Linked DNA regions of Homo sapiens: all the other regions are linked to region 2. The links come from fine-mapping of genetic effects on gene expression. A gene starts in region 2. Each other region holds a variant in brackets. All regions are shown on one strand. Distances are from middle to middle. Region 1 has its middle 21 kb from the start of EEIG2. Region 2 holds the start of EEIG2 (EEIG family member 2). Region 3 overlaps EEIG2 (EEIG family member 2).

Region 1 (11,480 bases), 22 kb before region 2:
AGGATCACTTGAGCCAAAGAGCTCAAGGCTGCAGTGAACTATGATTGCATCACTGCACTCCAGCCCAGACAACAGTGAGACCCTGTCTCTAAAAAATAAAATAAAATGCATACTTTTTGAAGCATCAGTAACCAGGAATCTCTATTAAGCTTGTATACCATTCTTGTCCTGCTCAAACTCAGTCATCTCAATTCCAACCAGATGTCCAAACCAGAACCCTGGGAGCGATTCTTGTCCTCTCCCTCTGCCTCAGTCTCCATATCCAATCATCCCCCACAAAGCCCTGTTGAATATCATTCTAAAATACATCATGAGCTTTTTCACGCTCTCTGGTTAAAGGTAGTCCAAGTCAACACTGTCTTACATTGGGGCTGCTACAATCAGAATTTTTTAAATAAAAATAGTAGCAAACACCTTATAATCCTTACTATGGGTCAGGTACCCCTCTAAGTGCTTTAAATGCATTAGCTGATTTATTCTTCTCAATAACCCTATAAAGCATTCTAGCACCACTTGAAGATGAAGAAACTGATGCACAGAGAAGTTAACTGACTTTCCCAATATCACACAGCTAGGAAGTGGAGGAGCCAGCTGTCCCCTCCTCACTGACCCTTTGCACTCACACCTGCCATCCTCCGGTCTGATTTCCACACAGCAACCAGTGTGATTGTTTAAACAAGTAACTTTTATACAGAACCAGAAACCTTGAAGTGAGAACAGAAAACAACTTTATTCTTTTCTTCCCAACAGCCTGATCAAACCGGCTCTGCAGGACAGGTTCTTTCCTGGCGCCTGGGGCAAGTCCCTTGACTTTTTTTTGGTGCTGTCAGTTAATACGAATTCTCTCTTTCAGTCGCAAAATGGTCTCATTTCAATAATAAAAATGCCCAGTTCAGCGTGTTGGTTGAAACACTGAATTTCATTACAGTTAATGCTTCCTCCCCACCACCCACCCAAACCCCAAACCTGCTAGGGCTGGCGGCCTTTGTGGTGGGGCTGGCTCCTCTCTCCTGGCCTCCTCCTCTTCATTGTCTCAGCCGCTTCAGCCAGCCAAGGTTGGAGGGGCCAGGAAAGAGAGATAAGAAACAGAAAAGATCTTGTGTGACAGACACAGGCGTAATCTACCATTGACAGACTCTGGCCGTGGCAGGTGTTTAAAGCTGACTCTTACTCTCAGGACTTTTTTTTTTTTTTTTTTTTTTTTTGAAACGGAGTCTCGCTTTGTCGCCCAGGCTGGAGTGCGGTGGCGCATCAGCTCACCGCAAGCTCCGCCTCCTGGGTTCACGCCATTCTCCTGCCTCAGCCTCCCGAGTAGCTGGGACTACAGGCGCCCGTCACCACGCCCGGCTAATTTTTTTGTATTTTTTAGTAGAGACGGGGTTTCACCGTGTTAGCCAGGATGGTCTCGATCTCCTCACCCTAGATAGTCCTCTGTAAGTTCCGCTGATTGGAGCTCATTGAAATAGGCAAAGCCTCGACCTTAGCTGGATGCTTACATACCCACTCCAGCCCCACGTTCAGCTTCTGAATCTGAAGACACGTCTCCAGCCTCTGTCTGCTAAGGTTGTCTGGTGTGGACAGAAGTTCTCTTAAGCATGATCCCCTTTTAAATGACCGCACGTATATATTCCTCCCAAGGATTTCATACCTTGGAGCTGCCAATGCAAACTGTCAATACTAGTTAACTTTCCAAATGCAGTTCCTTACTTTGATGACAGTAAGCTATTTACCAGGTATTTCTGTGACCCATGGACTCCAGAGGCTACAGGTCAAACCTTCCATGTGGTCTCCTTGGAGCACCCCTCACTAGCACACCTGAGGCAAGGTAAAAATACCTGTCCTACCAATCTCTCATGGGGTTGTAGGGAAGACATGATGCATTGGAGATTCTTTCAATGGGAATTTCCAAAACTCAACTATCTCCTTGGCCTTTTCAATTTTAGTTCCTATATAGCCTTAAGATAGGCAGAGGGGTGAAGATCCACAGAAGTGGTTTCAGCACCTCTTTCATAATTCTGCCATAGATGATCTCACTCACTGCACTTTGAAATGTGGGGGTAATTAGGCCCTCAGCTGCAGTGAATCAGGAAGAGTCCCATTTTAACACTCTGTTAGAAATACCACATCATGCCTTTCCATCGCTATTAGCATTAAATACTAAAAAACACTAATCATACTATGTCCTTCCACTGCTATTGCGATTAAACGCTAACTCTTTACCACATTCTATGGAGCACTGCATGATATGGGCCTTGCCTACCTGTCTAGCCTTGTTTCATAACTCTCTTTTCAGGTTCAGCTGCATTGGTCTTCTTGCAGGTCCTTGGATTCTCTAAGCTCTTTCCTACCTCAGGACCTTCATACATGCCTAGGAGATTCTTCCTCCTACCACTCTTGTCCTCATTTGTTAGGTCTCAGCTTAAATATTATCTCATAGCAAAGGATTTTCCTGAAGTATTATAGCTCTCTGCCCCCAGCCAACTATTCTCATTCATATATATTATTTAACTTTACAGCATTTACCACAAATTGTAAATGTGTGATTGTGTATTTTCTTTTTTTTTTTCTTTTTTTTTTTTTAATTGATCATTCTTGGGTGTTTCTCGCAGAGGGGGATTTGGCAGGGTCACAGGACAATAGTGGAGGGAAGGTCAGCAGATAAACATGTGAACAGAGGTCTCTGGTTTTCCTAGGCAGAGGACCCTGCGGCCTTCCGCAGTGTTTGTGTCCCTGGGTACTTGAGATTAGGGAGTGGTGATGACTTTTAACGAGCATGCTGCCTTCAAGCATCTGTTTAACAAAGCACATCTTGCACCGCCCTTAATCCATTTAACCCTGAGTGGACACAGCACATGTTTCAGAGAGCACAGGGTTGGGGGCAAGGTCACAGATCAACAGGATCCCAAGGAAGAAGAATTTTTCTTAGTACAGCACAAAAGGAAAAGTCTCCCATGTCTACCTCTTTCTACACAGACACGACAACCATCCAATTTCTCAATCTTTTCCCCACTTTTCCCCCCTTTCTATTCTACAAAACCGCCATTGTCATCCTGGCCCGTTCTCAATGAGCTGTTGGGTACACCTCCCAGCCGGGGTGGCAGCCGGGCAGAGGGGCTCCTCACTTCCCAGTAGGGGCGGCCGGGCAGAAGCACCCCTCACCTCCCGGACGGGGCGGCTGGCCGGGCGGGTGGCTGACCCCCCCACCTCTCTCCCTGACGGGGCGGCTGGCCGGGCGGGGGCTGACCCCCACCTCCCTCCCGGACAGGGTGGCTGCCAGGCGGAGACGCTCCTCACTTCCCAGACGGGGTGGCTGCCGGGCGGAGGGGCTCCTCACTTCTCAGACGGGGCGGCCTGGCAGAGACGCTCCTCACATCCCAGACGGGGCAGCAGGGCAGAGGCGCTCCCCACATCTCAGACGATGGGCGGCCAGGCAGAGACGCTCCTCACTTCCTAGATGGGATGGTGGCCAGGCAGAGACGCTCCTCACTTCCCAGATAGGGTGGCGGCCGGGCAGAGGCTGCAATCTCGGCACTTTGGGAGGCCAAGGCAGGCGGCTGGGAGGTGGAGGTTGTAGTGAGCCAAGATCACGCCACTGCACTCCAGCCTGGGCACCATTGAGCACTGAGTGAACGACACTCTGTCTGCAATCCTGGCACCTCGGGAAGCCGAGGCTGGCGGATCACTTGTGGTTAGGAGCTGGAGACCAGCCCGGCCAACACAGCGAAACCCCGTCTCCACCAAAAAAATACGAAAACCAGTCAGGCGTGGTGGCGCGCGCCTGCAGTCGCAGGCACTCGGCAGGCTGAGGCAGGAGAACCAGGCAGGGGGGTTGCAGTGAGCGGAGATGGCAGCAGTACAGTCCAGCTTCAGCTCTGCATCAGAGGGAGACCGTGGAAAGAGAGGGAGAGGAGGGAGAGGAGGGAGAGGAGGGAGAGGAGGGAGAGGAGGGAGACGGGAGAGGGAGAGGGAGAGGGAGAGGGAGAGGGAGAGGAGGGAGAGGAGGGAGAGGAGGGAGAGAGCGTGATTGTGTATTTTCAAGTTTATGGCCATATGGCCAGAAACTGGTTAATGATTTACTAAATTATTTCTGTTTTCCTACTGGACATACAGTTGAACTACATATCCCAGCCTCCCTTGCAGTTAGGTACAGCCATATGACTGTTGTAGTCAATGGAATGTAGGTAGAAAAAGAACACACTTCCAGGCCTGGCCTGTAAAATCTTGCCACATCTGATCCCCTATTCTTTTTTTCCATTCACCGCCTTAATAGAGAAGATTTCAAAGACCCAGAAAAGCATACAATCACAAGAGGAAAGTGATCTGAGTTAGTGCTTAGAGGAGAGAGTCCAGTATAGTCAAGATATCAGCAGCAGCCTCACTGGACTATTGCTTGAGCAAAAAACAAATTTTTATTAGGTTAAGTCATTGAATTTTCTCTTATAGAAGTATTCCAGCAAGTAAATTGAAGAAAGAATGACAGAATTAGATTACCACTATATTAAACCCTAATGAATTCATGAATCTAGACAATGATCATCAATGGCTATTATTTGTGATGGGAAGAAGAAGAAGAAGAATATTCACAGAATATTAAATATATTTCATTGCATCCTGGGCTCTCTTTTCTTTCTTTTGTTTTTCAATTTTTATTTTAGATTCCAGGGTACACATGCAGGTTTGTTAGAAAGGCATATTGCATGATGCTGGGGTTTGGAGTATGATTAAACCCACCACCCAGGAAGTGAGCATAGAACCCAATAGGTATTTTTTCAACCTTTGCCCCCCTTCCTTCCCACTCTTGTATTTCCAAGTGTCTATTGTTCTCCTCCTTATGTCCATGTGTACCCCATGTTTAGCTCCCACTTATAAGTGAGAACATGTGTTATTTGATTTTCTGTTTCTTCATTACTTCAGCTGCATCCATGTTGCTGCAAAGAACATGGTTTCATTCTTTTTTATGGCTGTACAGTAATCCATGGTATATAAGCATTAATACCACATTTTCTTTATCCAATCCACTGTTGATGGGCACCTGGGCGGGGTCCATGTCTTTGCTATTGTGAATAGTGCTGCAATGAACATACAGGTGCATGTGTCTTTTTAGTAGAATGATTTATTTTCCTTTGGGTATAAACTCAGTAATGTCATTGCTTGGTTGAATAGTAGTTCAATTCTTATTTCTTTGAGAAATCTCCAAACTGCTCTCCCCAGAGGCTGAACAAATTTGCATTCCCAGCAACAATGTGTAAGCATTTCCTTTTCTCCACAGCCCCACCAACATCTGTTATTTTTTGGCATTTTAACAAAACCCATTCTGACAAGTGTGAGATGGTATCTCATTGTGGATTTGATTTGCATTTCTCTGATGATTAGTGATGAGCATTTTTTCATGTTCGTTGGCTGCTTGTATATCTTTTTTTAAGAAGTGTCT[T/G]TTCATGTCCTTTGCCCATTTTTAATAGGGTTATTTGTTTTTTGCTTGTTGATTTAAGTTCCTTATAGATTCTGCATATTAGACTTTTGTCAGATACATAGCTTGCAAATATTTCCTGCCATTCTCTAGGTCATCTATTTACTCCATTGATAGTTTCTCTTGCTATTCAGAAGCTCCTCAGTTTAATTAGGTCCCACTTGTCAATTTTAGCTTTTATTGCAATTGCTTTTGAGGACTTAGTCATAAATTCTTTGCCAAGGCTGATGTTGAGAAGGATATTTCCTAGGCTTTCTTCTGTTATAGTTTCAGGTCTTACATTTAAGTCTTTAATCCATCTTGAGTTAATCTTTGTATATGGTAAGAGATAGGGGTCCAGATTCACTCTTCTGCATATGGACAGCCAGTTATCCAGACACCATTTATTGAATAGAGTCCTTTTCCCACTGCTTACTAGCGGTAGATGTGTGGCTTTATTTTTGGGTTCTCTATTCTGTTCCTTCCATTGGTGATTTTCTATTTTTGTACCAGCATCATGCTTTTTTTGGTTACCATAGCCTTGCAGTACAGTTTGAAGTCAGGTAATGTGATGTCTCTGACTTTGTTCTTTTTGCTTAGGATGCTTTGGCTATGTGAGCTTTTTTGGTTCCATACAAATTTTAGAATAGTCTTTTCTATTTCTGTGAAAAATGAAGTTAGTAGTTTGATAGGAATAGTGGGCTCTTTTTTCTATTTATATTCACCTCCAGATGATCACATTTGGTCCCAGCCTTTTCATACATCTAGCCATTGACAACTTCCACATTTTTATCTCCAGAGCTATTAATTCCAGTGAAGTTCTGGATTTCTATATTCAACTGCCTCCTCAAAGTCTCTACTTGGCTGTCTAAAAATTTCTCAAGTTTAACATGTACACAACAGAACTCTTTACTTCTCTCCAAAAACCTCCTCCCACAGTCTTCCACATGTGAGCAGATGAATCTAAGCCACCATCATATCTCATCCAGTGATAGCTGATGTCCATATAATGAGTTCTTCACACAACATCTAGGGTGCATGAACTTTTCAAAATTCAAATCAGATAATGCCACTTCCCTGTTTGAAACCTTTGTACAGCTTTCTGATACACTCAAAAAAATTCAAACATTTTTTCATGGCCTCCTCCTTCTTGGCTGCTCTGACTTCATTTTCTACCACACTTTCCAATGCACACGCTTCTCAAATCTTCTTATTGTTCCTTGAAAGAAGCAAGCTCATTCCTGCCTCAGGGCCTTTGTATTTGCTATTCCCCTGCTTGGAACTCGGTTCTACCATCTACTTATGGCTTTGTCCTGCACTTCATTCAGACATCCTTAAGAAGGCTTGTCCAATCTATCAAAAATAGCACCTTGCATCCTCCCACTGTCCCTGCCCATACTCTTACTCTATTTTATTTTTTTCTTTGAAGTTATTACTATTTGATATTACGTATTTGCTCACTTGCCAGAATGGAAGCTTCATGAATGCAGGAATTTTGTTTGCCTTGTCCATTGCTGTTTCTTCAGTGCATAGAAGAGTCATTACCAATGAGTGGGAACTCAATACGTATTTGTTAAATAAACAAATTGATTAATGGATTATTGTTGTGGGAAGTCAGGGACCCCAAACTGAGGGACTGGCTGAAGCCATGGCAGAAGAATGTGGATTGTGAAGATTTCATGGACATTTATTAGTTCCCCAAATTAATACTTTTATAATTTCTTATGCCTCTCTTTACTGCAATCTCTAAACACAAATTGTAAAGATTTCATGGACATTTATCACTTCCCCAGTCAATACCCTTGTGATTTCCTATGCCTGTCTTTACTTTAATCTCTTAATCCTGTCAGCTGAGAAGAATGTATGTCGCCTCAGGACCCTGTAATAATTGCATTAACTACACAAATTGTACAGCATGTGTGTTTCAACAATATGAAATCTGGGCACCTTGAAAAAAGAACAGGATAACAGCAATTGTTCAGGGAATAAGAGAGATAACCTTAAACTCTGACCGCTGGTGAGCCGGGCGGAACAGAGCCATATTTCTCTTCTTTCAAAAGCAAATGGGAGAAATATCGCTGAATTCTTTTTCTCAGCAAGGAACATCCCTGGGAAAGAGAATACGCGCCTAGGGGTATAGGCCTATAAACGGCCCCCCAGGTGTGGTCGTCTTTTATGGTCTGTAGACTGTAGGGGTGAAATAGACCCCAGTCTCCCATAGTGCTCCCAGGCTTATTAGGAAGAGGAAATTCCCGCCTAATAATTTTGGTCAGACCGGTTGCTCTCAAAACCCTATCTCCTGATAAGATGTTATCAATGACAATGGTGCCCAAAACTTCATTAGCAATTTTAATTTCGCCCCGGTCCTGTGGTCCTGTGATCTCGCCCTGCCTCCACTTGCCTTGTGATATTCTATTACCTTGTAAAGTATTTGTTGTCTGTGACCCACACCTATTCACACACTCCCTCTCCTTTTGAAAATCCCTAATAAAAACTTGCTGGTTTTGTGGCTTTTGGGGCATCACGGAACCTACCGACATGTGATGTCTCCCCCAGACGCCCAGCTTTAAAATTTCTCTCTTTTGTACTCTGTCCCTTTATTTCTCAAGCTGGCCAATTCTTAAGGAAAATAGAAAAGAACCTATGTGACTATTGGGGCAGGTTCCCCGATAGATTATAAACAAGTGACCATAAAACCTTCCAAGTTTGACTCAATCACAGTTATGAGCCACATTTAGGAAACCCTGACATACAAGCATTCTGTCATTTATTGACTGGGTAAACTTGAGAGAGATGCCTGATCTCCCTGTGCCTCAGTTTTTTCATCTGTATAATGGAGGAATAATGTCATCTGTTTCATAAGAGTGCAAGGCTTAAATAAATGAATAATGAAGTTCTTAGACTAGAACAATGCATAGTATAATACATAGTAGGTACTCAATAAATGTTTGCTGACATTATTATTATTACAGAATTCCAGATTTTCAGTGTTTAAATTAAGAAAATAGAGGAAAGGGCCATTTTTCACATTAAAGGAATTTTTAAAGTCATAAACAATAAATATGTATTGGGATTTACAAAGCAGGCCTTAACTGCATGAGAGGTAAGAAGTAGCAGAGAAACTTAGAATGAAAGTATTAAAAATCGCTTCCAATTACAAATCACTATGAAATAAAAATAATTATGAAAATATGAGGTAGTCATTCAGATTTGATTAACAACCAAAATAAATCAGTTTATATACAACTTTTCAGGAATACACCTACAGGGTAAATTAAAAGACATCTGAACTCTTCAATACTTAACGTCACCATAATCGGCAAAGACAGATGGAGCCCTTTCCTCCTGCCCTTGCCCCCTCTATTCCACATAACCATTATATCCCTCTCTTACTAACAACTTCTATCTTGAAGGCAGCAACATGATTCATGCTATAGCCCAGGCTTATCATATTAGGGCAAGACCAATATACTTAGCCTGAAAACAGGGTTCCACAAATGAAGGTGCTTGATTAGCTAAGCTACATGTTAAGAAATCACTTCTGCACTAAAAGTAAAGCCAAAAATTGAAGCCAAACCTGAATAATTTTGATAACACTTGCTTTTAAGTAAGTTGTTTCTGCATTTATCTCAGCTTCATTTCCTACACGTCACTGAGGGGAATTTTTCCTCTTTTTATCATCCACAATTATTGTTCTGGCATTTTGTTGTTGTGTTGGTTTGTCTGTTCATTTGCTTTCTTGCTTTGCTTGCATCCTGACGGATTAAAACCATCAGGGTGAGATTCTGCTACAATCTTCTTCAGCCAAACTTACTTGCCAAGTATGTAGCAGTCTTCCTGTTCCCACATAGCAACCTCCCATCTTTTCTTAGTATTTTGAAGCATGCCAAAGAAAGAAAATGATACTGGGTGTCTCAACATACCTTAAGATTTGGCCCTCCTGTCCCTCAAACAACCTAACAAACAAAATATAGCCATTTACAGAGCCCACCACAGCTCAGCAAGGCCTACTACCTCTGTTGACTCCACCTCTGGGGGCAGGGCATAGCTGAACAAAAGGCAGCAGAAACTTCTGCAGACTTAAACATCCCTGTCTGACAACTCTGAAGAGAGCAATGGTTCTCCCAGCATGGCATATGAGCTCTGAGAACGGACAGACTGCCTCCTCAAGTGGGTCCCTGACCCTAGTGTAGTCTAACTGGGAGATACCTCCCAGTAGGGGCTGACTGACACCTCATAAAGGTGGGTGCCCCTCTGGGATGAAGCTTCCAGACGAAGAATCAGGCAGCAATATTTGCTGTTCTGCAATATTTGTTGTTCTGTAGTCCCCGCTGGTGATACCCAGACAAACAGGGTCTGGAGTGGACCTCCAGCAAACTCCAACAGACCTGCAGCTAAGGGATCTGACTGCTAGAAGGAAAACTAACAAACAAGAAAGGAATAGCATCAACATCAACAAAAAGGACATCCACACCAAAACCCCATCTGCAGGTCACCAATATCAAAGACCAAAGGTAGATAAACCCACAAAAATAGGGAGAAACCAGAGCAGAAAAGCTGAAAATTCTGAAAACCAGAGTGTCTCTTCTCCTCCAAAGGATTGCAGCTCCTACCCAGCAACAGAACAAAGCTGGACAGAGAATGACTATGACAAGTTGACAGAAGTAGGCTGCAGAAGGTTGGTAATAACAAACTTCTCTGAGCTAAAGAAGGATGTTCAAACCCATTGCAAGGAAGCTAAAAACCTTGAAAAAGAGGTTAGATGAATGGCTAAGTAGAATAAACAGTGTTGAGAAGACCTTAAATTACCTGATGGAGCTGAAAACCATGGCACAAGAACTACGTGACTCATGCACAAGCTTCAGTAGCCGATTCGATCAAGTGGAAGAAAGGGTATCAGTGATTGAAGATCAAATTAATGAAATAAGGCAAGAAGAAAAGTTTAGAGAAAAAAGAGTAAAAAGAAATGAACAAAGCCTCCAAGAAATATGGGACTATGTGAAAAGACCAAATCTACGTTTGATTGGTGTATCTGAAAGTGATGGAGAGAATGGAACCAAGTTGGAAAACACTCTTCAGGATATTATCCAGGAGAAATTCCCCAACCTAGCAAGGCAGGCCAACATTCAAATTCAGGAAATACAGAGAACACCACAAAGATACTCCTCAAGAAGAGCAACCACAAGACATGTAATTGTCAGATTCACCAAGGTTGAAATGAAGGAAAAAATGTTAAGGGCAGCCAGAGAGAGAGGTCGGGTTACCCACAAAGGAAAGCCCATCAGACTAACAGCAGCTCTCCCAGCAGAAACTCTATAAGCCAGAAGAGAGTGGGGGCCAATATTCAACATTCTTAAAGAAAAGAATTTTCAACCCAGAATTTCATATCCAGCCAAACTAAGCTTCTTAAGTGAAGGAGAAATAAAATCCTTTACAGACAAGCAAACGCTGAGAGATTCTGTCACCACCAGGCCTGCCTTACAAGAGCTCCTGAAGGAGCACTAAACATGGAAAGGAAAAACCGGTACCAGCCACTGCAAAAACATGCCAAATTGTAAAGACCATAGATGCTAGGAAGAAACTGCATAAACTAATGGGCAAAATAACCAGCTAACGTCATAATGTCAAGATCAAATTCACACATAACAATATTAACCTTAAATGTAAACAGGCTAAATGCCCCAATTAAAAGACACTGACTGGCAAATTGTACAAAGAGTCAAGACCTATCAGTGTGCTGTATTCTGGAGGCCCATCTCACATGCAGAGACACACATAGGCTCAACATAAAGGGATGGAGGAAGATCTACCAAGCAAATGGGAAGCAAAAAAAAGCAGGAGTTGCAATTTCAGTCTCTGATAAAACAGACTTTAAACCAACAAAGATCAAAAGAGACAGAAAGGCCATTAAATAATGGTAAAGGGATCAATTCAACAAGAAGAGCTAACTATCCTAAATATATATGCACCCAATACAGGAGCACCCAGATTCATAAAGCAAGTCCTTAGAGACGTACAAAGAGACTGAACTCCC
Region 2 (11,480 bases):
AAACTGAAAAGTATTTGATCTTTTTGCTTCCAGTCAGTTCCATATGCCAGAAACACTGAGGTTTCCTAGAGATAATTCTCAATCCTGATTATCTCTTTGCTTCTTCACTCCTCTCTTCCTCTCAATTTAAGGAGGCTACTTTGAGAACATCAGACTTAAATGTGAAGACCACACCCTAAATATAATCTTTGTTTCACGGCTGAGTCTTAATGGGCCCTTGTTGCTCAAGAGCTTTTTCAATCTTATTTCCTATTCTTTGAGGTATAGAGCAGTTAGTTTTTCCCATCCCTTGAGGCTCCAAATTTCTGGACTCTCTATATTCCTTTTAATTTATGCTTGCAAACCTGCTAATTATTGCATGAGTTCATCTTATGTTTCCAATATCTTACTGAATGCAGCCATAAATATAACCTACTAACATTCCATTTTTCAACCTCTTATAGAACTATGGGTTTCATAGATATCTTACTTTCTTACCAAATTATTGTAGGTATAAGATTGATGGGAAAGCTTCCCCTCTGCCTTCTGAAGCTTTGCTGAAATGACTGACAATAGACAGATTAACAGGAGAAAAGGCATACAAATTTATCAGTGCACATGGACAGAGTAGTCCTGCGAATATGAGACTCAAAGAAAGACCAGAGGGTTGAGACTTAAATATCCTTTTTGTAGGGGAGAGGTAAAGGGGGAGTGTACGCATTTTTAAGGGGTAGTAAATGCTTTTCAAGGGAATTGAATAAACCTGTAAGAATTGTCACACCTCTGGCAGTAAGCAGTCTTAGCACATGTCTATTCACTCTGTTGTTTTACCTGAGAGTTAACACACTTAGGATAGGTCTATAAATTCAGGTCATTTCAAGAAACATGTATTGAATACCCACTAGGTACTGGGCTATTTAGAAAAGATACAAAGATGATCAGCAAACCATCCCTGCCTTTAAGAAACTTGAATTATAAGTACTGGAGTAGATACTTAGCCTCAACATTCATTCCACCATCCTATCTGAAGAAGTTGGAAAGCTGAAAATTACATTTCTCAGACTCCTTTGCCACTCAATTTTTGGGTGCAAATAAGGCCTGCCAAATAAATTTCCTTATGAAAACACAGGTGCAAGTGAAATGGAGGCTCTCTTCTTACTGCTGTGTCACTTGCAAGCAAGGTGTGATGACATGCCTGTGGCATTCAGACTCCTCATAGTCTTGACAGGTGTGAGCCAGTGGTGGTGGCAGCAGCAGTAGCAGTGTTCTAGTGTCAGCTTCCCATCCCAGCTGCAGTGTATGTTAGTCAGAATAAACTAGACTTATGCTGTAGTGACAAGCATCCCCCAAAATCTCAGTGGCTTCATATAATAAAAGTTGCTTTCTCACAGACAAAATGTTTCCTGCAGGTGTGGGCAGTTGCTCTCCATGTGCTGACTTAAGAAATCTGGGCTGCTTCAATCTTGTGGCTGCTACATCTTAACCCAAGGTCTCCTCTATAACTATTGTGGCAGGGAAGAGGTAGTCTAGAGAACTGCTCAAAGGCTTTTCACTGTTTCATCCTGGAAGTGACGTGTTACTTCTCACATTTTATTGGCTAGACCTCATCACAAGGCCCCACTAACCGCAAGGGAATTGGGAACTGTAAACTCCCATATGCTCAGAAATCAAGGAGGACCGGATACTAGTGAACACTAGTAATGTTTACCACAAAGCATGTGACTTTGAATTCGACAGTCTGCTGACCTCAACCCCTTCAGCCCTTCCACAGATTTCAGAAGCAGTGAAGTGCCTGAATGAAATCCCTTTTTTTTTTTTTTTTTGAAACATCCAGAGTGGTTTCAGCTTCCTATGGTGAACCCTGACTGTATCCTTTGTGTGCTAGTGGCTTTCCATCCCCTTACCTCCAACCATTCTCTACCTTTCAGTGCCCTACTTTGTGCCCCAGGAGTCTGTCCTGTATGAACTGCATGTTCCGAGCCCCTCTACCCTCTGGCCTTGGTTGGTTTTGGATCATGGGAAGCACCACCAAGAGATCAGAAAGTAGGAGGTGAGAGAAATCAGGATATTTATCCCTTCTTCCTTTCAACTTCTCACCAGACTGTGGGTCCCTTACCCTGTCAACTCTGTGAAGAGTCCTTTCATTAAATTTTCCCCATTTAAACACATTGAATATGATATCTGTTTCCTGCCTTGACTATGACTCCTATCAGGGGTTTAATAATCAAACCATGAGTCTAAAAAACAGTAACAGACTGTCTCCTATCTTCCATTTTATAAAGTAGAAGAGCTTTACAAAATGTAAATCTGAATATATCATGCTTCTTCTTTAAAACTTCAATGGCTCTTTGTTAACCCCTGTCACTGTACCCAACTCTAAGTTGCAGCCAGACAGAACTAATTTCAGTTCCCTCTGCAACATGGTCTCTCTTCCTTTGAGCCTCTGCACAGACACTACCTCCTTCCTGGAAACTGCTCCCCACCCATGCTCATTATTCAGGCCTCAGCTTAAAGGCCTGAATTCAGGCTTCACTTACCCTAGAAGGCATTCCATAAACCTACTACTTATCCCTGTTAGCTTTTATAGTCTCCCACAGCAGTCTCCACTCACCATCATACACAGACAGCACTCAGTGTTACATTGTACTGCAACTGCCTGCTTACTTCTCTGTGTCCTCCAGTAGACCGTGAGATCTAAGACAGGGACGGCATTTCAAATCCATAGGACCTATTAAGGTGCTTGGCACCTAATAGACACTCAATAAATATTGGATAGTTCCTGAATGTTATTGAAAAAGATTGAACTGTCCTCCTCTGGTCACCATTCTCTCTCTCTTTTCATTCGCTGACAAAAAAATCAGAAAAACATCAATAAAAATATAATTTTTATTTACCCACATTACTTTGTCACTATCTTACTTTTCACTGTCATCTTTTCACTTACTTTGTCACTTTTCATCTTACTTTGTCACTATCTTTTATGATGACTTCTCTTGCCAAGATTACCAATGACCTCCTAGACCTTCAATTCAGTAGCTTCTTTTCAGTCCAAATCCTCTGGGACTGCTCTGCAGCACTCTCTTGAAATGGTCCTCTGTCCTACATGGATCACAGATTGCTCTCTCTCTTTCTTTCTCTCTCTCTTCTCTCTCTCACACACACATACTCACATACCACACACACACACTTTAGTTGATCTGTTTGCATATCTCTGTTTTTCTCCATTCCTTTATAAGCCCCTATGTCTTATTCATTTGCATCTCTAGTACCCAGCATAGTGCCTGGCACACAATAGAACTTTGTAACTACGAATGTTACATGATTAAAACCGTCTGGGCTTCCAGGCCATCTCTTTCTTCATCTCCTTTTTCTCTTGACTGCTTGTTCTTAGGCACCTTCACGATCTCCTCTTTGCCTACCCTTTAAATATTCTTCAGAGTAACTCATCCTTATCCACCTTTTGGGCTTCAGCCATCAGCGATTACCTCAATTCCCAAATGTATATTTTCAATTGCCAATGCATTTTTATGAGCTAAGGCTGCCTCTCTCTCCCTAGATGTACTGCAAGCAGATCCCATAAAGACTCATTATCTCTTCCATTCCCAACCTGCCCTCCTCTTGCTTTCAATGTTCAGTCAATGAAATTAACATTCATCCAGTGCTCTAAATGACAAATCTCAAAGTCCCCAAATGCATCTCACTGTCTTTGCCCCCTGTCCTGCAGGGTAAGAAGCTTTATCCATTACCAAATCCCCACCCCCGAACCTGCCTCTGAATCTTTTTTTTTTTTTAATTTATTTCTCCTAGAACAACTTACCCCACTTTGTCCCAAATCATTTTCATCCTTTGAAATTCAGAAAACTGATTAACTTCAATTAATTGCTTCTCTGAGTTCTACATAGCTTGGTGCTAGGTTGTGTTTTTTTAATGACCTGTCTAAACATGTCTTCCTCACTAGATTGTAAAATTCTTGAGGGCAGTTATTGGCTTTTGGTTATGGGGTCTAGCCGATGATTGACATTTTAAGCAATTTTTTTATATGAATGAATGAGTAAACGAGTAAACTGAGAAAGAAAATATTTTCAATTAAACCCTTTCAGAATTACTGTGGCAGAATCTGAGTGAAAATGACAATAACTCAGTTTAAAAACATGAACATCACGTAACCAACTTTGTAACATTCATTGTAACAATACATGCATGATTACAGAAGGCAGGTAATTGTTATTCCCCTAGGGAGATTTTTTTTTAAGCCTGCTCTGAAGATTTTGTTTTGTTTTTAAGACAGGGGCTTGTTCTGTTGCCCAGGCTAGAGTGCAGTGGCGCGATCTCCGATCATTGCAAGCTCCGCTTCCCCGGCTCAGGCTAACCTCCCTCCTCAGCCTCCCGAGTAGCTGGGATTACAGCGTAGCCATGCCAGACTGCCTGCAGAATTTGATTTTAAGCATTTCAGTTCTCAGTATAGACAGACAAATTTTTAAAGGGAGGGTATTATTTTAACTGCTTCTTTGCTCTTTTATCTTTTGTCCTGGGTGACAGGAACTAGATAAGCTATACCCCAGAGAAAGCGCCTGCAGCAGTACGGTGCCTGGGCCCTTGATAGTCCCTCAGCACATCATTTTCCTTTTTCCTACCTTATCTTCCTTTTATATTTGAAGGCTCGTGAATTTAGAGTACCTAACGGAAATTTTAGTTTTAGGATTTCAATTTGACCAAAACAACGCTGAGATTTTAATTGCCTCTATTAACCCATGGCTCTCAAACCCAAAGGAAAGAAACCACTGGAGGGGGTGGGGGAGAAAGGAGGCGGTGCAAAAACTGAAAAGAAAGGCGGAGAGGAAGCGGTAGAAGGAAGCTTTCTCTGTCGGGTTTGTCTTTTTTTAACCCCAGAAAGGCGTGACGTGCTAACTGCCGTCGCGGGTTAGAGTCCGCGGCCAAGCCCGCGCCCGCCCACAAAGTCCCCGCCCTCCCTCCGGCTTCCGCCCCGCCGTGCGCTGCAGGCCGCGGCCGCTGGGGGCGCCCCCGACCCCCGAGGCGCTGAGGCGGCGGTTCCTCGAGCCTCGCCTCTCCCGACTCCCAGACGGGCGGCAGCGGCGGCGGAGGCGGCGGCGGCGGCGGCGGCGAGCTGAGCACCAAAAGGGCGCTCACCTCCCCGGGCGAGCTGCAGCACGACCGCTCCCCGCGGGCGGTCGGGGTCCGCGCCGCAGCTGCCGCCGCGTTCCGGCCCAGGCTGCCGCGAGAGGCGGCGGCAGCGGCCCCGGCCGCGGCCGGCCTGCGGCGCCCCCCGGCCGCGCCCCCGCGCACAGCTCGCGGCCCCGGCCATGGGGCTGGGCTGATCCGGGGCTCGGCCAAGCTGAGGCGGCGGCGCCCGGCCGTGCGCCCAGCTTGCAGGCGCCTGGCTCTCACGATGATGAAGAAGAAGAAGTTTAAGTTTAAGGTGGACTTCGAGCTCGAGGAGCTCTCCTCAGTGCCCTTCGTCAATGGGGTCCTCTTCTGCAAGATGCGGCTGCTGGACGGCGGCAGCTTCACCGCCGAGTCCTCCAGGTAACTCGCCTCCCGCGCCGCCTCGCCCCTTTCTGCTTGGCCAGGGCTTGTTGGATGGGCAGCATCTCTCCTTGGCCCATTTGCTCGCCTTTCCCTAGGGACCGCTCTAAAATCAGTCGAATTTATTGATCTGCAAAGTGCTTTGCAAATGGGTTCTTCTCAGCTGGCCTTGGTTCCTGCGCTCCTGACTCCAGATGGTGCCTGGTATCTGCTCTTCCCTCCCAAATCCTCTAGGAATGGGAGCAATGGCCAGAGAGGGAGGATGCTTCTGTTTTCTCTTAAGACATTTCCATATTTGTGAAATGCAAAGTAGAACTTGAGCTGTTAAAAACTAAAATAACCCAAACTGCAGGAGTTCCAAGAGCCCAGCTCTGAACAGAAACCTGTGCTTAGCACAATTCCTTCTCCCTTGTAGATTACAAGGGGACTTGGCCACCCACTCTGAGGCTGGGGTAGGCCTGGCCAGGCTTGACTTGAGTCAAGTGCTCCTGGCAGACGAGACAACGGTCTGTGCCTCATCAGAGAGCGGCGTCTCCAGTTAGGCGCTAATGCTGGATGAATTAGTCTTGAAGTGGCCACTAGTAGGTCTCCTTGTGGGAGGGCTTAGAGCCAGATGGGGAGCCCAGGCCCTGCCCTCATTTTAAAATGAGCCCCTGGGCACTCCCAGAGAGAGGCATTAGCAGGTTACAGAATGAAGCTATTAAATAATAGGTGTGGCATTAATAATAGGTGTGGCAGTGTTTCTTGAGTAATTTCAGAGCTACTCACAGGTTGACAGATGTACCCTAAGGTGCTTTCTTTAAAATATATACATAGAGAGAGAAAACAATTTTTTAAATGAACTTTTGAGTTCCTGAGATCAAGAAGGGTTAAAAGTTAATGTTATTTTGCCCATATATACTGGTCTTAGGCTTTATTTCTGCCCTAAAAATATTCTACTTAAAAAAAATTCCGTCATCCCATTTATAGTATAAAGGAAATAATGTCACTGGATTGTGGAATTGGGGCTAGAAACTTGTCTTTGGGGCAATATTGAAGCCTATGGAAGCCAGAAAATGTCTAGTTGGCTAAACCAAAGGATATATGAAATTAATAGTTTGCCGAAGACAGTTTTTAAAATTAAACTGTGGTGACACATCAGTGGATATTCAGCTAAGTATTTTAAACACCTGTAAGAGAAGAATGTAACCTATTTTGGTGCAAAAAAAATATTGGACCATCTCTTACTTGTTGAAAAGCCTAAGCCGATTCGTGAAGGTCCTGTTGGTGCAGGTGACAGTCTTGCCCTGAGGCCTAGACTGTTTTGCTGCAGGGTGCCACCCCCGACGCCAGGCAGTTAGACTGGCGCTCCTGGGCCAGTGGTGACACCTGGTGGTCAGGGCACTTGTCTACGGGGCTTCCTTCCTACCTCAGTTATGTTTATTTGGCTTACTTCCCACAAGTCACTTATTCTTTCGTTGTAGGCAGTCATTTATTCAGCAAATATGTGTTGGCTTCTAAATATATTATCTTATTTAATTCTCATAGCAAGTCTATAAGGTAGGGGTTCCATTTCGTAGATAAATAAACTGAGGCTCAGAAAGCATAACTAACTTTCCTAAGGTCCCCTCAGCTGGTAAGTGCGATGCCAAGATTCTGATCAGGTCTGTGTAACTTCAAACAGGGTGGTGCCAGATAAAGGAATAAATCGTGTGCCATATATGAAAGTTTCTGAATAGGGAGCTTCCTAATGACTTTAATGAGCAAGGGGTATACTCCGCAAGACTTAGAAATGAAAAAGTTGAGTATCTTGGGTTAAACTCACCCCTTTTTCTTCCAATTAAAATTTGACTTTGATCAATTTGATTTTAAGTAAGATTAGGAATAGTGCTCTGTGTAGCCAAACCAAAAAGCCATATAGTATGGGGGAAATGACTCACAATAAGGAGCCTGTGCCTTTGACATTAGGTAGAGATAGTTGGTGTAAAGCTAAGAGCAAGGATTTGGAATGCGGTGAGTCTAAGCCTAAACCCCAGTTCCACTGTGGTAAACCTGGATGGGTTACTTAGAGTCCCAAAACTTCTGTATGTAAAATAGAAACCATCACTGACATGTGGTGGTGTGAGGATTTAGTGAGATGATGTGCCCAAAACACCTAAACAGTGCCTTAGCACCCAGTTGGCATTTAAAGAGGAGACCAGGAACTTGTCCAAGAAGGTCCATTTGCTTGAGATGTTATATTTGATTCCTTTATCCTAACAACTACAAAATTGTTGGTTTGAGAAAGAGACCTCATTTTACAAGAAAAAAAAAAAAGAAAATCTGAAATATCTAAAGGAAGTGAATTATTTCAAAATCACAGAACTTTTAATTAGTGGGTGCCAGTCAAGGCAGTGCATCTCTAATTGAACGCTAGATTTTAACTTCTAAAAAATTGCTGTATGTGCCCCTTAAAAGTCAGGTGTAGTTAACACTGTAACATTTCTCCTGTAAAAATATGAAATGAATTACATAGAAAAGAGGTAATATAGCAGGCCCAAGACTGCTATTCTTAGAAAGGCCTATGTACAAGGCTGGCCCTTGGCTGGCATCTGGGAGCTTGAATGGTAAATGGTTCCATACATGATACAAAACTTTACGTAAATGATAAGAGTGGCTCACTGTGCCTAGACTGTACGGAGTGGTTTATGCTAAATTCCATCTGGAATTTTGGTTCTTGCTAGGCAGCCTACGTGACCAGCCCTAATACAAATTTTGGGCATTGAGTCTCTAATGAGTTTCCCTGGTAGACAGCACATCACAATTTAATTCTAGAGAAGTTAAGTGTGTGCTGATTCGACTTTGTATCTTTTCATTGTAATAAACCTTAGCCATGAGTAGGACTGTATGCTGAGTCCTGTGAGTCCTAATGAATCACCAAACTTAGGATTGGTCTTGGAGACTCCCTGATGGATGAACCTTTATAAAATAATACTCATCTTGCTACAGAAAAGCCTTAGAGGCACACAGAAAATTGCATATATAGATATAAATAGAGAGACCCAAATATATATAGGTCATATGTATTTGATATATATATTAATATATTTGGCTTTGTACAACAACTAAACATGCAGATCATTTATTCTTGGCCAAGTATTAGTTGAGCATTTACCAGGTTTCTATTAATAGCTCTCCATCTGGGATTGTGAGAAGTACAACAAATATAAGGATCCACAAGGGAATTACTTCTAATGAAATTAGATCATAGATGTATAATTGCTTGACAGTAGAAGACAGTGTGACTTAGTGCCCAATCAATGGATCAGACAATATATTGAGTGTTGTTGAAATTCTAAAGCAAAAGAGTTAATTTACAACTGTAATGGTTACTGACAACCACATTGGCATTTCTGTGGAGCACTCTGGGAGGATGAGTTTGCATTGACAAAGTGAGGATGGGAGGACAGCTTGAGCAAGTCATCAATAGGAGTTGATAATAGATCAGCCTGATTGCAGAGCGTTCATGTTGAATGGAAGCAGAAGATAAGATTAGAGAAAGACTTTGAATACTGTTGTAAAGAGTTTCTTTCTACTCTCTTTCTATAAATGAGAGTTGCTTTCTACTGCTCATAGGGTAAAATTAAACCTAAGATTCTTGAACTGAGTTGTTGTGTGGTTAAAGTGGCGTATCACCTGGCTGACAGGCTGATGCTATCTGTATTCAAGGTTGGGTGGGGGGGAAATTAGAGATGGGGAGACAAATTAGGAGGCTATTAAAATAACCCAGGCAGGAGCTAATGAGAACCTGAACTCCGAGGTGTCTCATGTAAGTGACTGATAAATGATAATCTTATGACAGATGCCTTGACGCCACCACAGAAGTAAAGAAGTCAGGAAAATTATTTGTTTTGTTTAAGGGGAATATTGCATATGGTGGTGGAAGATATAGTGGGTTAAGTTGTATGCTTAGCATGCTACATTTGAGGTGACAGCCTGATGAGTAGTGGGAGGCATTTATGCGGTATGTGGATTTCTTAGATGTTGTCTATTGGAGCCATATAGGCCTGCTTACTAAACTTATTTAGAATTTCCTTACATTGTTTTTACCCTTTTAAAGATTATTAGTGAAAAAAGGCCAGGCATAGTGGCTCATGCCTGTAAATCCCAGCACTTTGGGAGGCCGAGACACGCGGATTGGTTGAGCTCAGGAGTTTGAGACCAGCCTGGGCAACATGGCAAAACCCCATTTCTACAAAAAACATACCAAAAAATTAGCTAGATGTGGTGGTGGGCACCTGTAATGCCAGCTACTCAGGAGGCTGAGGTAGGAGGATCGCTTGAACCCGGGAGGCAGAGGTTGCAGTGAGCTGAGATCACCACCACTGCACTCCAGCCTGGGCAACAGAGTAAGACTCTGTCTCAAAAATAAATAAATAAAAATAAAGATTATTAGTGAAAATTAATTTTAGAAGCCAGTTTTTCTTGGTATTGTTTTCAATGAAGAGATTGGAAAAATATAAAGACTAAAAGGTAATTATTTGTAATAAATATTATTAAAATGGTCAGGGTAAATTGTCAGATTTTTACATGCCATAGTTAATAAAATATTTGGAAAATACATTGTACGATTATGGTGGTCTATTCAACTGAGGCTAAATTGTTGTCTAATAAAATACAGTCATGTATCAGTTAACAATGAGGATCTGTTCTGAGGAGTGCATCCTTAGGCGATTTCATCATTGTGCAAAAGTCATAGAGTGTACTTACACAAACCTAGATGGTATAGCCTACTACGTGCTTAGACTATGTCGTATAGCCTGTTGCTCTGACCACATCGTGTATTTGGTCTGTTGTTGACCAAAATGTCCTCATGCAGTACATGACTGTATTTCTGAAGATGTTTCAAAAGGACAGTATTATTGTATTTAAATCTTTTCACCGTACTTCCTTTGCAAAAGCATTTAAATCACTTTTAAGGTTTATTAAAACTGGCATGGCAGGTTTAATTCTGGCCTACTTAAACAAAGGAATAATAGGAAGAAATTTTTTCTATATCTTTTAGAATTCCCTAGTTTGCCTTATTTTGTTCATCTTTTTTTTTGTGCTGATAGCCAAATAGTTTTCTAAGTTTCACATGAGGCTGTGGCAGAAACACATGTGAATTTGGGGAGTGTCTGGGAAGCTGATGAGCACATCTATGTATTGGACCTTTTACTCTAAACAAGCGGAAAGGATTTCTTTCTTTTGGCCAGAGTACATCCTTCTGTTTTCAAGATTTTAGTTCACTGCACATTGTGTATTTCTTTTTAGTAAACATTTCTTTATTGAAAAAGTAATACAGATTCATATGGACAACTTAGAAAATAGAAAGGCAGAAAGAAAGGAACAAAAATTGCCCATAAATGAACCACCCAGGGATAATCACTATTATAAATATTTTAGTATAGAAATTAGGAGCCTTTATTGATCTGTACACATACATGTATGACCACACTCCCCCACACAACTATCACATACCCTTTTTAAGCCAAAATGAGATTATACTATACTTAGTATGGTTTTTTACTTCATGTATCTTTTCATATCATTAAATATTCAATTACAAGATTATTTTAATGGTGCATATTATTCTATTGTATGAGTTTCCATGACTTATTGAACCAAGTCACTTTTGAAAGGCTTTCTCCTTTCCTTTCTTTTTTGTTAATAGTTTTATAAATAAACTACAATAAACATCCTTATAACCAAGCTTGGTATACATCCATTATTATTTATTTAGGATTAACACTTAGAAATGGAATTATAGAGTCACAGGGCATGCAGATTTTTAAGGGTTTTGATATATATTACCAACTTGCCCTTCAGTGCATTAAATTGATTTTTTAAGATTAGTAATCACTAATAAGCAGCAAATTATCAAAAGTTACTAGTAGTAGAAAGTACTGTCTGACCATATGGCACAGAATTATTTATACACTAGATCCAGCAACCCCACT
Region 3 (7,072 bases), 73 kb after region 2:
AAAAAAGAAAAGTTCTGAAAAACCAAATACCATTTTGCTAGTTATTCAGATGCAGATGAAGAAAAGTCACCTGCCAAACTTACATTGATTATCAGCACTGCAGCAGATAATAGTGAGCACAGACACCAAGGACAGTGTAGGAATTCTAATCACTCACTTGCTCCTTAACAACCTGCTCCCCACACTTCTGTGCACCCCTAATTCCATTCCATGTCGTATTTATGTAGAGTCCCTGCACAACTACAGAGTGAGTCACAGTTGCAGGTGGGTAGCTCCTTGGACCAAGACAGTTATTGTATTCTCTCGTGGTCAAAACCTAAAAGAATTTTGCATTCATTTCTTTTACTAATACTCATTTTAATGAGTACCTCCTATTTGTCCAGCACATTACAAGGCTCAAAAATAGACTAACAGCAAAAACCTACATCAACGATTAACTACAATCAGATATCATAAGTAGGTAAGAGAGAGACATATAAAGCTACTTTCAGGGAGTAATGTGAAAAAGGATTTACAGAAGATGTAACACTATTTAGATCTTTGATTGACTCATCTGCTTATTAAATTCAGTAACTGTTTCTTGGGCCAATTTGTAGGTAAGGATGCAAGTAGAAAAGACCCAGCTCTTACCCTCTGCTGGCTTATGGTCTAGCACATGGGGCTGGCAGGCTATAGCCCATAGGCCAAATTGGCCCACTACCTGTATTTATAAAGTTTCATTGGAACACAACCATGCCTGTTTATTTGTATAGTGTTTACTGCTGCTTTGATGCTACAGTAGCAGAGCTGAGTGGTGCAGCAGAGACTCTGTGGCCCACAAAGCCTAAAATATTTACTGACTCTTTTTTACAGATGAGATGGACAAACTAAAAGTCATAACATTATAATAAATACTGTAATAGAGGGAAGTTTGAGAGAACAGAAACAGGATCTCAGAGTTCACACTTGAAGAGAGACTTTGGGAGAATAAAAAATAAGTGGGGGGCTTATAAGGTGAATATGATGAATACAAATACTCCTGGTAACAAATAGAATGAGTTTATAAGTACAGTAATTATGATATATAATTATATCATAATAAACATATAGCAATTATAGGTAGCATTGAGCATTTATTAGTTATGTGCCAGGCACAGGTACATATATATTTTTTATTCAATTCTTATGTAGTAGTATCTTTCAGTGCTCACAACATACTACAATTAGTTTGGTGTTTTTTTAATGGAAACAAAGATACAAAGAAGTAATTTGAGGCTGGACATGGTGGCTCACACCTGTAATCCCAGCACTTTGGGAGGCCGAGGCAGGTGGATCACTTGAGATCAGGAGTTCAAGACCAGCCTGGCCAACATGGCAAACTCCCATCTGTACTAAAAATAAAAAAATTAGCCGGGTGTGGTGGCGGGCGCCTGTAATCCCAGCTACTTGGGAGGCTGAGGCAGGAGAATCACTTGAACCCAGGAGGTGGAGGCTGCGGTGAGCCAAGATTGCACCACTGCACTCCAGCCTGGGCGACAGAATGAGACTGTCTCAAAAAAAAAAAAAAAAAAAAAAAAAGAAGAAGAAGAAGAAGTAATTTGCCCAAGGCCTTAAAACTAGTAAGTGGTAAAACCAAGATTAAAACTCATGTCTCTTTGAGTCCAAATCCCATTGTACTTAACCAGTATATTTTACTGGCTCATTAATAATATAACATAGTTCAGGTTCTTCTGAGGAGAGGGGGTTGTGAAAGGGTATTTAGGGGCATGAGGTTGGCAAGCATCTCTGAGCTAGGTTGTAAAGGGCCTCACTTGCCATAACAAAGTTTCTTCTTCTCATGTGCACAGTGGGGAGCCATTGGCCATCTTTGCAGGGAAGTGACCTATCAGATTGGCATTTTAGAAAAATAACCGGCCATAATTTGAAGGGTAGATTAGAGCAAGGAAAGACCAGTAGCAGGGGGAACTAGGTAGAAAAGTAACATTTATGAGGACAGTGGTATGAATGATGGAGTGAACATGTGTTTTTGAGTTAGAGACTTGGGTTCACATCCTAGCCAGACCACTTTTGGGGCCTGAGTAAATCACTTAACTTCAATAGAACTTTAGTTACCTCTGCTGAAAAGTAGGAATAACCATGCCTATCTCATGGAGTAATTTTAAAGGGTAAATGACATAATATACTCAGTAAGCCCTGGCTTTATTAATTTAGGTACAGAACAGCAGAAAAGGTAGTTCCAACCAAATGGAATTTTTTTTTCTAAGAGATAGGGTCTCACCCTGTCACCCAGGCTGGAGTGCGGCACAATCTCAGCTCACTGCAGCCTTCAACCCCGGGCTCAGCCTGCTGAGTAACTAGGACTACAGGCATGCACCACCATGCCCAGCATTTTTTTTTTTTTTTTTTTATAGAGACAGAGTCTCACTGTGTTGCCCAGGCTGGTCTCAAACTCCTGGCCTCAAGTGATCCTCCCACTCCAGCCTCTCAAAGTGCTGAGATTACAGGCATGAGCCGTTGTGCCAAGCCTTCAACCAAAAGGCATTTAAATAGTAAATGGTCAAAAGCACGGGCTGTCTTAGACTGCCTGGGATCAAGTCCTAGCTCTTCCACTATTGATTGATACTGTTGACCTCTGTAAGTCTCAGTTTCTTTGCCTATAAAATGAGAGTGATAAATAAGATCCTGAACTCATAGGATGTAAGACTAAATTAGATGACTTATGTAACATTTTTTGGTTTTCATTTTTGAAAGACAAGGTCTCACTCTGTTGCCCAGGCTGGGGCGCAGTGATGTGATCACAGCTCACTGCAGCCTCCAATTCCTGCACTCAAGCGAACCTCCTGCCTCAGCCCCTGAGTAGCTAGGACTACAGGTGTGAGCCACCATGCCCAGCTTTTCTTTTTTAACTTTTTGTGGACACAAGGTCTTGCTGTGTTGCCCAGGATACAGCCTGGCCCACTTGGGTTTTCTTACTGGGACCGGCATGCACCTGCCTGCTTTCCTTTAGGGACGTTAAATTTTTTCTGACAAGAAGTCTGCCTGTATTTTTATTTTATTCTTCTGTATGTGATTTGTCTTTTATATCTGGCTGCTTTTAAGATTTTCTGTTTATTACTGGTTTTTAGCACTTTGGCTATGATGTGCCTTGAATATGTTTTTCCTTGTGTTTATTCTGCCTGGGGTTCATCAAGCTTTTTGGATCTATGGGTTTACAGTTTTCATCAAATCTGGAATTCTCCAGCCATTATTTTCCCCAACCCCTCCTTCTGTTATTCTGATCTACAAATTCTAGTCCCTAGCCCCTCTGAGCTTTGATCTCTGACTCCTTCACTCAGAGAGACCAGCAGGCTGTGTTTGGGGTCTTCCTCTCTGCACTGCAGGCTCGGAAGATCCTGAAGGAAACTGCTTCAGGCAGCTAGCTGGGGCGGTTGTCGGGCTCTCTTCATTTATTTCTTGTTTCTTGGGACCACAGTCCTGCACTGCCTGTTGTCTAGTATGTGCAAACTGTCATTTCACTTATTCTATCCGGTTTTCTAATTATATAAGGCAGGAGGGAAAATCTGGTTCCTGTTACTTCATCATGGCCAGAGGCAGAACATATTTAAAAGGGCATCTAAAAGCCAGTGTGCCATGCTGCCCACCATGGTTTCTTCAAATTCTGATTTTCTGTAGGATGAATGGGTGCTCACTGGCATTCTGTTGAGGAAGTTCCTATTTCTTCTGTAGAATGAATCTGTGAGAACAGGAGTTTCTGGGCAATCAACTGAGAAGTCCAGCCAAGTCCATGGTGGGCTAGTAATCACTACCTTACTTCTGTTGTTTAGAATTTCCTCTTAAAATGCCATTAAGGAGAGACACTAGTCATGGTGGTTGCTTCTGGGCTTACTAAACTCAGGCACACTCATGGTAAAATGACAAGTAGTAGGGTATACCCTAACATCTTGACAAATTGGGAAATGGGTACCTGGTGATAACTTCAGGCAGTAATGGGCCAGGCGTGGTGGCTCATGCCTGTAATCCAGCACTTTGGAAGGCTGAGTTAGGAGGATTGCTTGAGCCCAGGAGTTCTGGTTGCAGTGAGCTTCAGTCATGCCACTGCACTTCCATCTGGGCAACAGAATGAGACCCTGCCATGAAAACGCCACAATATTATGACAGCTGAAGACCATCATCATTAACTCAGTGCAAGTCCTGATGCACTGCCAGAGTCAACATATGCTCTTGGATGAGACCTATTTTAGAATGAATAGATAAACATGTTTGAAGAGCATTTCTTGCCACCATTTGTCGATAGGTCAAGAATTGGGGAATTCTAATAGATTATTGTGGGAATAAGTGTGAGAGAATCAGGATCTAGGCTAATCCAATGTATTAATGATAAACATTTAATATTTCACATAGTTTCTATCCGTGATGCCTTTAAACGTTATGGAAATCAAATCTAGTAGAAAAATACCCAGTGCCCCATCTCTCCAGGGGTAAGGTTACTTGGAACAGTTTCAAACACTGCAGCTCAAAATTTTGAAGTTTTTTTCCACTGCTGTTTTAGGGTGGGGTCTGGAGCTTATGAACAAGTTGTGATCAAACGCTAGAAGTCAAGTCGGTGAAAACATTTCCTTGT[G/A]GATTTAAGATGTGAGTAGTTGATGTATCAAGGCATTTTATTCAAGCACTTAATAGAAAATGAACCTCAACTATCAAGAGGAAAGCCAATGCTGGTTTCTTCTCTGGAAGGACCCACCGCCATCCTGTACCAGCCACCAAAGGGGAACATCTACATGGCAGTCTCCAGGCACTGTGCCACTGTGTGCCTTGGAAGCACCTGGCTTCTGTGGTCACTGCACATCATAATGAAAAGCCTGCTTTTTCTTTCAGAACACCCCAGCGGAGAAAACAGCATTATATACATCGGAGTATCATTTTAGGATTCAAGTGTAAAAATCTGTGATCAAGAGGCTCAATAGATTTGGGCTCTATGGTTTGGTTTTTTTAGTTTGAGAGACAGTACATGAATATAACTTAAACCCTATAGATTTTGTCAAGATAGTTGTAATTCCTGTTCTGGAAATCTTCCCTATTACACTACCTACAGCATTGTATAAAGTGTGGGTGTTCATGCTTTGGGAAAATGTTAGACTACAATTTAAACATGTGATGTGCTTATTCATAATTCTCAGTGTATCAGTCATAAATGAAATAACAAGTGCATTTAAGTCAGAGATACGTGAATGGATGTAATGCCGTTATGCAGTATATATTGTTAATTGTCATTAATATTAGATGAGCTGCAGAACCACCCCCAAGCACTACATAAAAGACTCAAAATAAGTTTAACACTTACTGTGTTGGGCACCCTAACAGAAGAGCTATCTTAACTCATTGAATATTAAGATCTGCTGGTTTCAGGAGTCAAAATGTAGAAAAAGAGGAGAATTGTAATATGGTCAGAAACAGAGAAGCCTTTTCTATGTAAATTCAGACTTATCTGAGGCTAACAGTTTTCCGAAGTGGTGGTGGGTAGCAGCATGACAGCTGCTTGCCATGACTGATGCAGACTACTAGGTTTCCATTTTAGCTCTCTGTAGGTACTGTTTTCTTCCCCACTGTGTCGAAAGTGATTTGTTTTGAAGCAAGAGTAGAATATAACATCTATCAAATATAGCTTTTAAAATAAGAATACCTGGTCTGGATCCAGTTGAGCAGCACAGCAGATAAACCTTAGAGTTTTTCTGTTCTTACATGACGGTTTCCATGTGGAAAGATCTAAACTTTCTTGGAATCACTATTAGTGAAGAAAAATGTAGAATCTGTATAACCAGTAATTCCCCAATTCTTACTTTCAAAGTCATATCCAAGAAAGACAATATGTCAGAATAGAATGACTTTGGTCTAGGTGTTTTCACGTTGGCAAAAATAAGGAGGAAATTATATTATTTTAATATCCAAATTTAAAGGTTTGGAAAATTTTGAATAGTTAATATTAGAACTTATGTTGCTGTTTTTTATATTTCAAGGATTGAGTATTCTGCATTAATCCAATACTATTCCAACAAAGAGATTCTGGAAGTTTTTAAAAAATGATACCCTGTTTTATATTTTGAATGTAGAGAGACTCTGAGAGAGAGAATGTTCTGAGTTATACTTTTTATTTTTTAAGATTTATTTTTAAGAATAAAACATTGACCTGAACATTTTAGCCTAACCAAGGGACTTAAGTGGTAAAGACTTGCATTATGTCTTCATGTGAACTGATCCGTTCATTATATATTATGGGAAAAATCAAAGAAAGTTTTTTATAGAGATATGAAGATATTATTTAGAGAGATATTTATTATGACATTTTTTAAAAACATATTTTTCTATTTTCAAAATATTATTTCTAGGCTATATTTTTATTGGTGCTGTGCAAATGATTTTGCAGTTTTGAAAATGATAAAACTAGATTGTAAGTGGGGTTCAGTGAGGACATTCATCAGACACGTAAGAGGTGCTGCAATCAGGGTGATGCCCATCTTACTCATCCTTGGCTGCCCTTGGTCCGACACCTCTCTATACAAGACTGGTTCTCAGTATTTTAAATGGTACAGAATTCTTTTTAAAAAGTAGAGAGATTTTGAAAAGCATAAAAATCATGCCTTTATAATCTTAGCAGCCATCAGATACACCTTGATTTATGTAGTAGTAAATATAACAAATATTTTAATAAATAGAAACACTGATAAGGAAGAAAAAAGAACTAATGTCTATGTCTTCTGTAGTCAGCAAAAGTCTGGATCCATTTTCTATTTTGTGTTCCATTGGCACACTTTGTGTTCAAATTTCAGTGCAGTCCTTTCAAAATACTCGCTAAGGGTTGCCTAAGTGTCTGCCTTACTTTCTGATTGTCCTTTTCTGAGAGCATGGTTAAGAACATCTTAACCATATAGCTGTTGAAAAAATCTGTTTATTAAATAACAAGTTCACTTCTGTTTATGTTTTGAGTTTAGAAAATTTGACTTGAAAATTTAGATTATTAATAAATTTATTTTTAAATATTAAAGTCAAATTTCAAATCACCCAGTGTTGAAGAATTTGCAGATGTATACAATACTTTTTC

What was found. PIP is the estimated chance that this variant, and not a neighbour inherited with it, causes the effect.
Region 1: its variant is fine-mapped to the expression of EEIG2 in lymphoblastoid cells (GTEx, PIP above 0.99).
Region 3: its variant is fine-mapped to the expression of EEIG2 in whole blood (TOPMed, PIP above 0.99). The same link has a PIP of 0.9 or more in cerebellar hemisphere, cerebellum and transverse colon.

The regions. Positions count from the first base shown.
Region 1 is chr1:108,532,915-108,544,394 of GRCh38, forward strand. No RefSeq gene overlaps it. Among named protein-coding and RNA genes, the nearest start is that of EEIG2, 21 kb to the right of the region's middle. RefSeq lists a cis regulatory region at 711-1,286 and an enhancer at 3,953-4,247. The variant T/G (reference allele first, on the strand shown) is at 5,432.
Region 2 is chr1:108,555,043-108,566,522 of GRCh38, forward strand. EEIG2 (EEIG family member 2) reads left to right here and starts at 5,058. Exons shown (of 11, transcript NM_001010883.3): 1 at 5,058-5,523. The coding sequence starts at 5,387. RefSeq lists a silencer at 4,719-5,258 and enhancers at 5,649-5,748, 6,212-6,261.
Region 3 is chr1:108,630,580-108,637,651 of GRCh38, forward strand. It overlaps EEIG2 (EEIG family member 2), which reads left to right. Exons shown (of 11, transcript NM_001010883.3): 11 at 4,529-7,072. The coding sequence ends at 4,571. Among named protein-coding and RNA genes, the nearest start is that of HENMT1, 27 kb to the right of the region's middle. The variant G/A (reference allele first, on the strand shown) is at 4,601.